Linked DNA regions of Homo sapiens: regions 2 and 3 are each linked to region 1. The links come from fine-mapping of genetic effects on gene expression. A gene starts in region 1. Each other region holds a variant in brackets. All regions are shown on one strand. Distances are between the middles of the regions.

Region 1 (2,500 bases):
TATTACCTTATTTTCCCCCAATGCCTGGGAAAATGCCAGGGACACACGGGCACTTAAATATTTGTGGAAAAGGCATGGCTTCTTCAGTCATGTTCCCCCCCCCCGCCCCCCTTATTCTGAACCCAAAGCAATGATCAGCGTATGTGTTCAATAAATATTTGCTGGATGAATAAAGGATGCTATTTCCCTTCCCTAGTCACCTACCTGGCAAACTCCTATTCCTTCTTCTAAAAGAAATTTACCTCTCACTCTTGTGGGCTTCCCTACCTTAATATCCCTTCTAGCCCAGCAAACAATGTTCATTAGATTTGTACCTGAAACTTCTATCACAGGGCATATCACACCATACTACAATGGTTTGTGCACATTCGAGATTGGAGAGCTTTATTAAGGGCGGGCTGGCACTGTATCATCGATGGCCATTGGGACAACAAACATTTGGTGAGCATTCTCATATGTCTGTCTTCTCGTTAGCCTGTGAGCTCCCTAGGCAGGGACCATGCCCCATTCATTCCGGTAATGTGGGAGCCTGGCACGGTGTCTGGCTTGGGGCAGACACCGAAATAGATGCTGAGAATTAACATCCAAAGATGTACCGTGCAGGCTGGGAAATTAGCCATTACTGGGGAAAGGCTGTGGCCGGCGGCCCCAACTGCTACATAAGATCAGAGGATGGGCTGGATCAGCGCCTCTCGCACTTATAAATCAATCACCTTAGGATTTTGTTCAAATGTAGATTCCTATTTAAAAGATCTACGGCGGAGACTCCACATTTCTAAGAAGCTCCCGGCTCGTGCCGACGGGGCTGCTCCGCGGACCACTTAGAGAATCCCGTTCAGGGTGGCTCATTTCGCTACCAGAACACCACCATAGCGCGGGAAGCGCGCAGCCTCTTGGGACTTGCAGTCCCTCCAAGCCCTTCATAGCGGCCGGCCGCTTATTCCTGTGCGAGTAAGGAGCGCCCAGGCCAACCCTCCGGCTGCAGGCTGAGGGGCGGGGGAGAGGTACCTGTTTGGGCTCCGTGGGCACGGGCGGCGGCGGGGGCACCGCCTGCACGGGTCCGGCCGGCATGACTGCGACGCTCAGGGCTGCCAGTCCGCCTCGGTGTCGGTGAGCGGTGCCGCCTCAAGACAGCCTCCCCGCTCGGTCAGTACGACGAGCTCGCAAGATGGCGGCGGCCGAGCGAGTTGCGGCCGCGAAGGTACGACTGGCGCACTTCCGGGACCGTCCCCTCGCCGTGACGCGCTTCCCGCCCCTCCCCGCGGGCACCGCGGCGTCCGACGCCGTTGCCAAGGCAGCGGCCTGAGCGCCCGGCTAGGGCTTTTCGGGGATCCCGGTGGCCGCAGGCGCACCGGGGGCAGTTCCGGGAGCCGACCAGACACGAAGGCTGAAGCCGCGACGCCGAAGACAGGTGAGATGTTGTACGTCACCCGCCGGACCCCCGCCGCACTCACCTCGCGGCTCCTTTACTCCACAGGCCAGTACCTCGCTCCCTTCGACCCCGCCTTCCAAGAGCCCAGCTCCCTCCCATTGGTCTCTCATTTAGGAGAGCCCCTGTCCCCTCAGGCTCACCGCCTAAGAGCCCCACTTCCCTACTCCCTTAGTCCCCCCTTTCATTTCAGACCCACATCCTCCAAGCCCCGCTTCCAAATCCTACGCCCTTAATTCGCTTTTCCCACGGAACCTGCCTTTTCTTGCTTCCATCCCCTGCCTTCCGTAGTCCCGCCCTCAAGCCCCACTGGGGGCCTCCCTCTCAAATCAAGGCTGCTGCTTTCTTTGTCTTTCTTTTTTCTTTTTTTCTGAGACAAGGTCTTGCTCTGTCACCCAGGCTGGAGTGCAGTGGCGCGATCTTGACTCTCTGCAACCTCCGCCTCCCGAGTTCAAGCGATTCTCCTGCCTCAGCCTCCCGAGTGGCTGGGACTACAGGCGCCCACCACACCCGGCTAATTTTTTTTTTTTTTTTTTTGGCATTTTTAGTAGAGACGGGGTTTCACCATGCTGGCCAGGCTGGTCTGGAACTCCTGACCTCAAATGATCCGCCCGCCTCGGCTTCCCAAAGTGTTAGGGTTACAGGCGTGAGCCACCGCGCCCGGCCAGTTTTTAAATTTTTTTTTTTGTAGGGACATGGGAGGACGTCTCCCTATGTTGCCCAGGCTGGTCTCAAACTCCTGGGGTCAAGCGATCCTCCCGCCTTGGCCTCCCAAAGTGCTGGGATTACACGCATGAGCCATCACGCAGGGCTGCTGCTTTAGGCTTCACCCCTCACTCTCACAGATGCAGCCCTGCAAGCTATGCGGCTCGCTCCCCAGAGGCCTACCTCGAATCCCGCCGGCTTCTCTCCCTCTCCTGCGATTCCCCCCTCTCTCCTTCCTCCTCTCCTCAACTCTGGAAAGCGGGGAGCTGGCTCCGAACCTGTTCCTGGACTTCAGTTTCCTCACCTGTGAAATGAGGGAGTGATAGGAAAGGTTGCTCTCTCAAGTCTTCCCCCTCCCCCCACACA
Region 2 (2,844 bases), 74 kb after region 1:
TACTTACTTTTAATAGAGATGGGGGTCTCCCTATGTTGCCCAGGCTGGCCTTGAATGCCTGGGCTCAAGCAATCCTCCCACCTCAGCATCCCAAACTGCTGGGATTATAGGAATGAGCCACTGCACTCAGCCTGGCATTGCCCTCTTTTTCTAGCCTCCTAAAGCACCAACCCCTCTGGGAGGGGAGCCTGTTGGGCAGATACCACCTGAGCCTGAAGGTGGCCAAGATGGTGGTGTCAGCCCCATATGAGGGTCACATGAGACCTCCTCATGAGGGGACTCGGCAGCCTGGAGAAGGAAGTGACCAGGGGGCTTCTTACACTCAGAATCAGGGAATGGCCTGTTTTCCTTGTGGCTTCCCCTGAGCTGCTGGGCTCGAGAGTGCTAGAGGGGGCCATTCCTCTGATCCTGGGCCATCCCCCTCAACAGCTCAGAGAGGTAGAGAGGTGGGAGCACAGGGCTGAAGCAGACCTGGGCCCCTCTCAGCCCTGCCCCAAGCACCAAATCAGCTCCCACCAAGACCCTGGCCCCATCCCTTGCAGCCCAGGTGCAGTCAGGTAGGCTGACCCTGTCCTGGTGGGACTCACCTGCACCTGGGCTGGGACTTAAAGGGGCTGCAGGGCTGGGTAGGGGTGCTGCCAGCAAGACAGGATGGGGGCTCCGGGGTGGTGGCCCCTGCTGCTCTGGGGGTATCCATGGCTACAGGATGAGTCTGATGTGGGCTGAGCCTTTCTCTGCTACTCTTATTGTCCCACACTGGCAAGGTCCCCTTCCCAAGCCCCTATGGCCTCTGCCCAGTCACCTGTCACTCCCTCCCAGCTCCCTTAAAGGCTTTAAGCCCCGCCTTGTTCTCTAGCCCCCGACCCCACCCCCCATTCCCTGTCTGAGCTGGCACTCACATCCTTCTCCAGCCCAGCATTTTCCCAGCTCATCTTCTCCCCCGGCAGTCACAGCCCCATGCGGGGTACATTCACACCTGCATCCCTGTGACATCTCCTGGCATCTACCACCAATTCCTTGCTCACTCACTCTCCACTTTCCACTCTGCAGGCTCTCCCTCAAGCTGGGATCTGTGCAGGCCACATATAGGCTTTGTGCTCATGGGCCTAAGCGCCCAGCCTTGTCCTTCTCCCCATCACCTGCCCTCCTGTGCCTCTATGCCTTTCCTCACAACACACTGTTCCTCAGCTGCAAATCCTTTTCCTCTTGGCCAGCTATGAGCACCCTTCAGAACCAGCTCCAGTGCCCCTTCTGTTGTTGCCCCTTACTATGCCTTACTGTGGGCCACCTCTGCCCTTGACTGCCCCGTTGGTGGTAACTTGTGAGGAAATACCGGGGTGCAAGTTTGCAGATGCCTGGCACATAGTAGGTGCTCACAGAAGGGGCTTTGAGGCACTCCCAGGCCAGGCTGATAGGGATGAGGTCGGTGGACATCCTGTCTGTAGGGGGAAACACCACCATCTCCACAACCCCCCAACATTTTACCCTGCTCCATTTATTATTATTATTATCATTTTGAGACTGAGTCTCGCTCTGTCACCCAGGCTGGAGTGCAGTGGCACAAACTTGTCTTACTGCAACCTCTGCCTCCCGGGTTCAAGCA[G/A]TTCTCCTGCCTCAGTGTCCCAAGTAGCTGGGACTAGAGGTGCATGCCACCATGTCCAGCTAATTTTTGTATTTTTAGTAGAGACGGGGTTTCACCATGTTGGCCAGGCTGGTCTTAAATTCCTGACCTCAACTGATCTGCCCACCTTAGCCTCCCAAAATGCGGGGATTGCAAGCGTGAGTCACTGTGCCCAGCTCCCTGCTCCATTCTGGAGATGCAGGGAATTAATTGAAGGTGGGGGATGCTGGGGGAGGTTTTTGGGCACCCTCTGCTGGCCATGTTCTCGCTGAGTCTGGTTCTCCGCCTGAGCTAGCCTGGGCTGGATTGCCAGGAGACAGCCTCCTGCAGGACTGTAATCAGACAGATGTCCTCCTGGCAGTGAGGAAGGAGCCCCAGGTGGATGCTTGCCACCTGTGCCTTGGCACCTGCCTGCCCTCCCCAGTCCCTGCCATACCTGGCTATGAGGTCTTCACTGCCCCATTCAAAGCTTATGGCTTCATCCAACTGGTGAGGGGGCTGTTGGAGGCTCACGAGGACAAGGCTGCCAAGAGCCAGGGAGTACCCGGGAGATTCGGGGGAGAAGAGCTGGGGTGTCTGGGCTGGAAAGAAGGGTAGAATCAGATCATACTGATTTGCAAGTCACAGCCTCTCCGAGTGTGAGTTTTTCTCTCAAAGATGCAGAGCCCTGTATCTCTGCAGAATTCAGTAGCTAAGGATTTGATGCAGATTTGCCATTTAGCATCTGTGTGTTTGTACGTGCCCTTTACGTGCATTTGTTTCTTGCATCCTCAACAGCCCCGTGAGGAGATAAAACCATCATTCCCATATTCCACATGAAGACACTGAGGCTCACAGAAGGGAAGACCCCACTGTCTACCACCAGATGCAACTCAGCACATCATTCTTCAAAGCAGAATTGGCTTTTTTTTTCCTTGAGACAGGGTCTCGCTCTGTTGCCCAGGCTGGAGTGCAGCGGTGCAATTATGGCTTACTGTAGTCTTTACCTCTCAGGCTCAAGTGATTCTCACATCTCAGCCTCCCAAGTAGCTGGGACCACAGGCGTGTGCCTGGATAATTTTTTGATTTTTTTTTTTTTTTTTTTTTTTTTGCAGAGACTAGATCTCGCTATGTTGCCTAGGCTGGTCTCCAGCTCCTGGGCTCAAGCGATCCTCCCACCTCGGCCTTCCAAAGTGCTGGGATTACAGGTGTGAGCCACCGAGCCCTGCCAGAATAGGCATTTA
Region 3 (2,844 bases), 26 kb before region 1:
CTGAGGTGGGTGGATCACTTGAGATCAGGAGTTCGAGACCAGCCTGGCCAACGTGGTGAAACCCCGTCTCTATTAAAAATTCAAAAATTAGCTGGGCGTGGTGGCAGGCGCCTGTAATCACAGCTACTCAGGAGGCTGAGGCAGGAGAATCGCTGGAACCTGGGAGGCAGAGGTTGCAGTGAGCAGAGATCACACCACTCCAGCCTGGGTGACAGACAAGACTCCATCTCAAAATAAATAAATAAATAAATAAATAAATAATGGCCAGGAGTGGTGGCATTTGAAGCTTGCAAAAGGAATTGCAAATTCATTATTGTCTTGAGTGTTCCCCATCACAGCCTGTGGCTGCAGCGGGGGAGTTTGCCCAATTTAACCTATGGCACGTGGCTTGGGAGACTTCACTTCGTGGCTGTGCCCCTCAACAACTGGGTGTCCTTGTGTGAAATTGCTAACTTTTGTATTTTTTTGTAGAGATTAGGTCTTACTATGTGGCCTAGGATGGTCTTGAACTCCTGGGCTCAAGTGATCTTCCCGCCTTGGCCTCCCAAATTGTTGGGATTACAGGCGTGAGCCTCCATGCCTGGCCAAACTCCAGAGTTCTTTATTTAATACACCTATAATGAGCCAGACATTAGTGCAGGGGTGTCCAACCTTTCGGCTTCCCTGGGCCACACCGGAAGAAGAATTGTCTTAGGCCATACATAAAATACACTAACGATATAGCTGATGAGTTAAAAAACATTGCAAAAAAAAATCTCATAATGTTTTAAGGAAGTTTACAAATTTGGGGCCGGGCGCGGCTCATGCCTATAATCCCAGCACTTTGGGAGGCCGAGGAGGGCGGATCATGAGGTCAGGAGATCGAGACCATCCTGGCTAACACGGTGAAACCCCGTCTCTACTAAAAATACAAAAAATTAGCCGGGCGTGGTGGCAGGAGCCTGTAGTCCCAGCTACTCGGGAGGCTGAGGCAGGAGAATGGCGTGAACCCGGGAGGTGGAGCTTGCAGTGAGCCGAGATGGCGCCACTGCACTCCAGCCTGGGCGAAAGAGCAAGACTCTGTCTAAAAAAAAAAAAGAGAAAGTTTACAAATTTGTGTTGGGCCACATTCAAAGCTCTCCTGGGCCATGGGTTGGACGAGCTTGCTCTAGTGAATAAGAGAGATGAAGTCCTGGCCCAATAGAGTTTATAGTCCAGTGGAGGAGGGACAACATGAACAAGCACAGAACATCTATCAGGTAGTGAGAATAAGAAAATAAAGCCAGGTAAGGTATGGAGAATGCTGGAGTAGGTGTTGGGGAGGTGGTATGGGCTGAAAATGAGGGACCCCTTCTGCAGGACTGAGAATAGTGTACAAGCATGGCAGCAGATGATTTTCCCCTTGAAGGAGAAGGAGGCTGTGTTGTTAGATTGGAGTGAGAAAGCAAGGG[C/G]AACAGTGAACCAATGAATAAATGATCAGAAAGGAGCCCTGCAGAATCACGTGGTTCACTGGAATAAAGAATTTAAGAGGCCTTAGGCAATGCTGTGGAACATCCTGGTGAACTGGCTGTTGGAGACATTCTTTTGAAGATAGAATGTGTTGATATCCCAGAGTCTCATCCTGCTGGGGTCATTCCCAACAGCTGGGCTTGAGGATCTCACATAGGCCCCTCTCCTGGATCCTGGAATGTGCAGTTGGCATGTGCTCAGGAAACCTGTGAGCACTGGCCATGAGCAAAAGTCCAGATGCCCTTTTTTTTTTTTTTTTTTTTTTTGAGACGGAGTCTTGCTCTGTTGCCCAGGCTGGAGTGCAGTGGTGTGATCCTGGCTCACTGCAACCTCCACCTCCCGGGTTCAAGAGATTCTCCTGCCTCAGCCTCCCAAGTAGCTGGGATTACAGGCACCTGCCACCTGTTATAACAGTATTCTCTGTAATGATCTATTTTAATTTTAATTTAAAAAAACTTTTTTAGAGATGAGTTCTCACTATGTTGTCTAAGCTGACTTTGAACTTCCTGGCTCAAGCAATCCTCTTACCTCAACCTCCCAAGCAGCTGGAACTACAGGTGTGTCACTGTGCCTGGCAGGAGTTTATCTTGTCCTGCTTCATGGACTGTAGTGTCCAGGGGTACCTAGAATTGTTCACTTACATGCTGGGAGCAGTGTCAGGGCATGGTGTCAGGGAACTCACCAGGCAGTGTTCTTTTATATAACAATGCAGCCTTTTTTTTTTTTTTTAGACAGAGTTTCAATCTTGTTGCCCAGGCTGGAGTGCAATGGTGCTATCTCAGCTCACCACAACCTCCACCTCCTGGGTTCAAGCGATCCTCCTGCCTCAGCCTCCCAAGTAGCTGGGATTACAGGCATGTGCCACCATGCCCGGCTAATTTTGTATTTTTAGTAGAGACAGGGTTTCTCCATGTTGGTCAGGCTGGTCTTGAACTCGCGACCTCAGGTGATCCGCCCGCCTCGGCCTCCCAAAGTGCTGGGATTACAGGTGTGAGCCACTACACCTGGCAACAATGCAGAATTAAAAAAATGTAACAATACAGAATAGTTAACAGCAAATCTCCATATCTGGTAGAGTTAATGATCATAACTCTTAAGATCTTACATTTTGCTTTTATTTTTAAAAAGTAAACTTCTAAAAATCTTATACACTGGTATGTGTACCCATGAGTAGAGCTATATTATGCTTTCTTGTCTAATTACAGGGATAAATGAAATATGATTGCTAATAGTACATGTATTTCCATTCAAGTATATATCCTAACATAACCCAATATAACCATTTAATATATTCTCTAATACAATATTATTAATTTTAAAGTAAAATGGTTCTGATCATTACTGGCCTCCTCTAAG

Alleles and levels. Alleles are on the strand shown, and positions count from the first base shown. SD is a standard deviation of normalised expression in the study named. Not every link is listed here.
For the expression in monocytes after LPS of the gene that starts at base 1,286 in region 1, allele G in region 2 goes with a lower level than allele A (moderate effect, 0.54 SD a copy in Quach 2016).

The links. PIP is the estimated chance that this variant, and not a neighbour inherited with it, causes the effect. A credible set is the group of variants that fine-mapping cannot tell apart.
Region 2: its variant is the best candidate, but not a certain one, in a credible set for the expression of CCDC157 in monocytes after LPS (Quach 2016, PIP 0.55).
Region 3: its variant is the best candidate, but not a certain one, in a credible set for the expression of CCDC157 in whole blood (INTERVAL, PIP 0.50).

The regions. Positions count from the first base shown.
Region 1 is chr22:30,355,722-30,358,221 of GRCh38, forward strand. It overlaps CCDC157 (coiled-coil domain containing 157), which reads left to right and starts at 1,286. Exons shown (of 12, transcript NM_001017437.5): 1 at 1,286-1,411. It overlaps SF3A1 (splicing factor 3a subunit 1), which reads right to left and starts at 1,173. Exons shown (of 16, transcript NM_005877.6): 1 at 1,009-1,173. The coding sequence starts at 1,071. RefSeq lists a silencer at 870-1,119 and an enhancer at 2,055-2,500.
Region 2 is chr22:30,429,210-30,432,053 of GRCh38, forward strand. No RefSeq gene overlaps it. Among named protein-coding and RNA genes, the nearest start is that of MTFP1, 4.9 kb to the left of the region's middle. The variant G/A (reference allele first, on the strand shown) is at 1,604.
Region 3 is chr22:30,329,407-30,332,250 of GRCh38, forward strand. SF3A1 (splicing factor 3a subunit 1) reads right to left here. Exons shown (of 16, transcript NM_005877.6): 16 at 2,582-2,844. Among named protein-coding and RNA genes, the nearest start is that of TBC1D10A, 3.9 kb to the left of the region's middle. The variant C/G (reference allele first, on the strand shown) is at 1,431.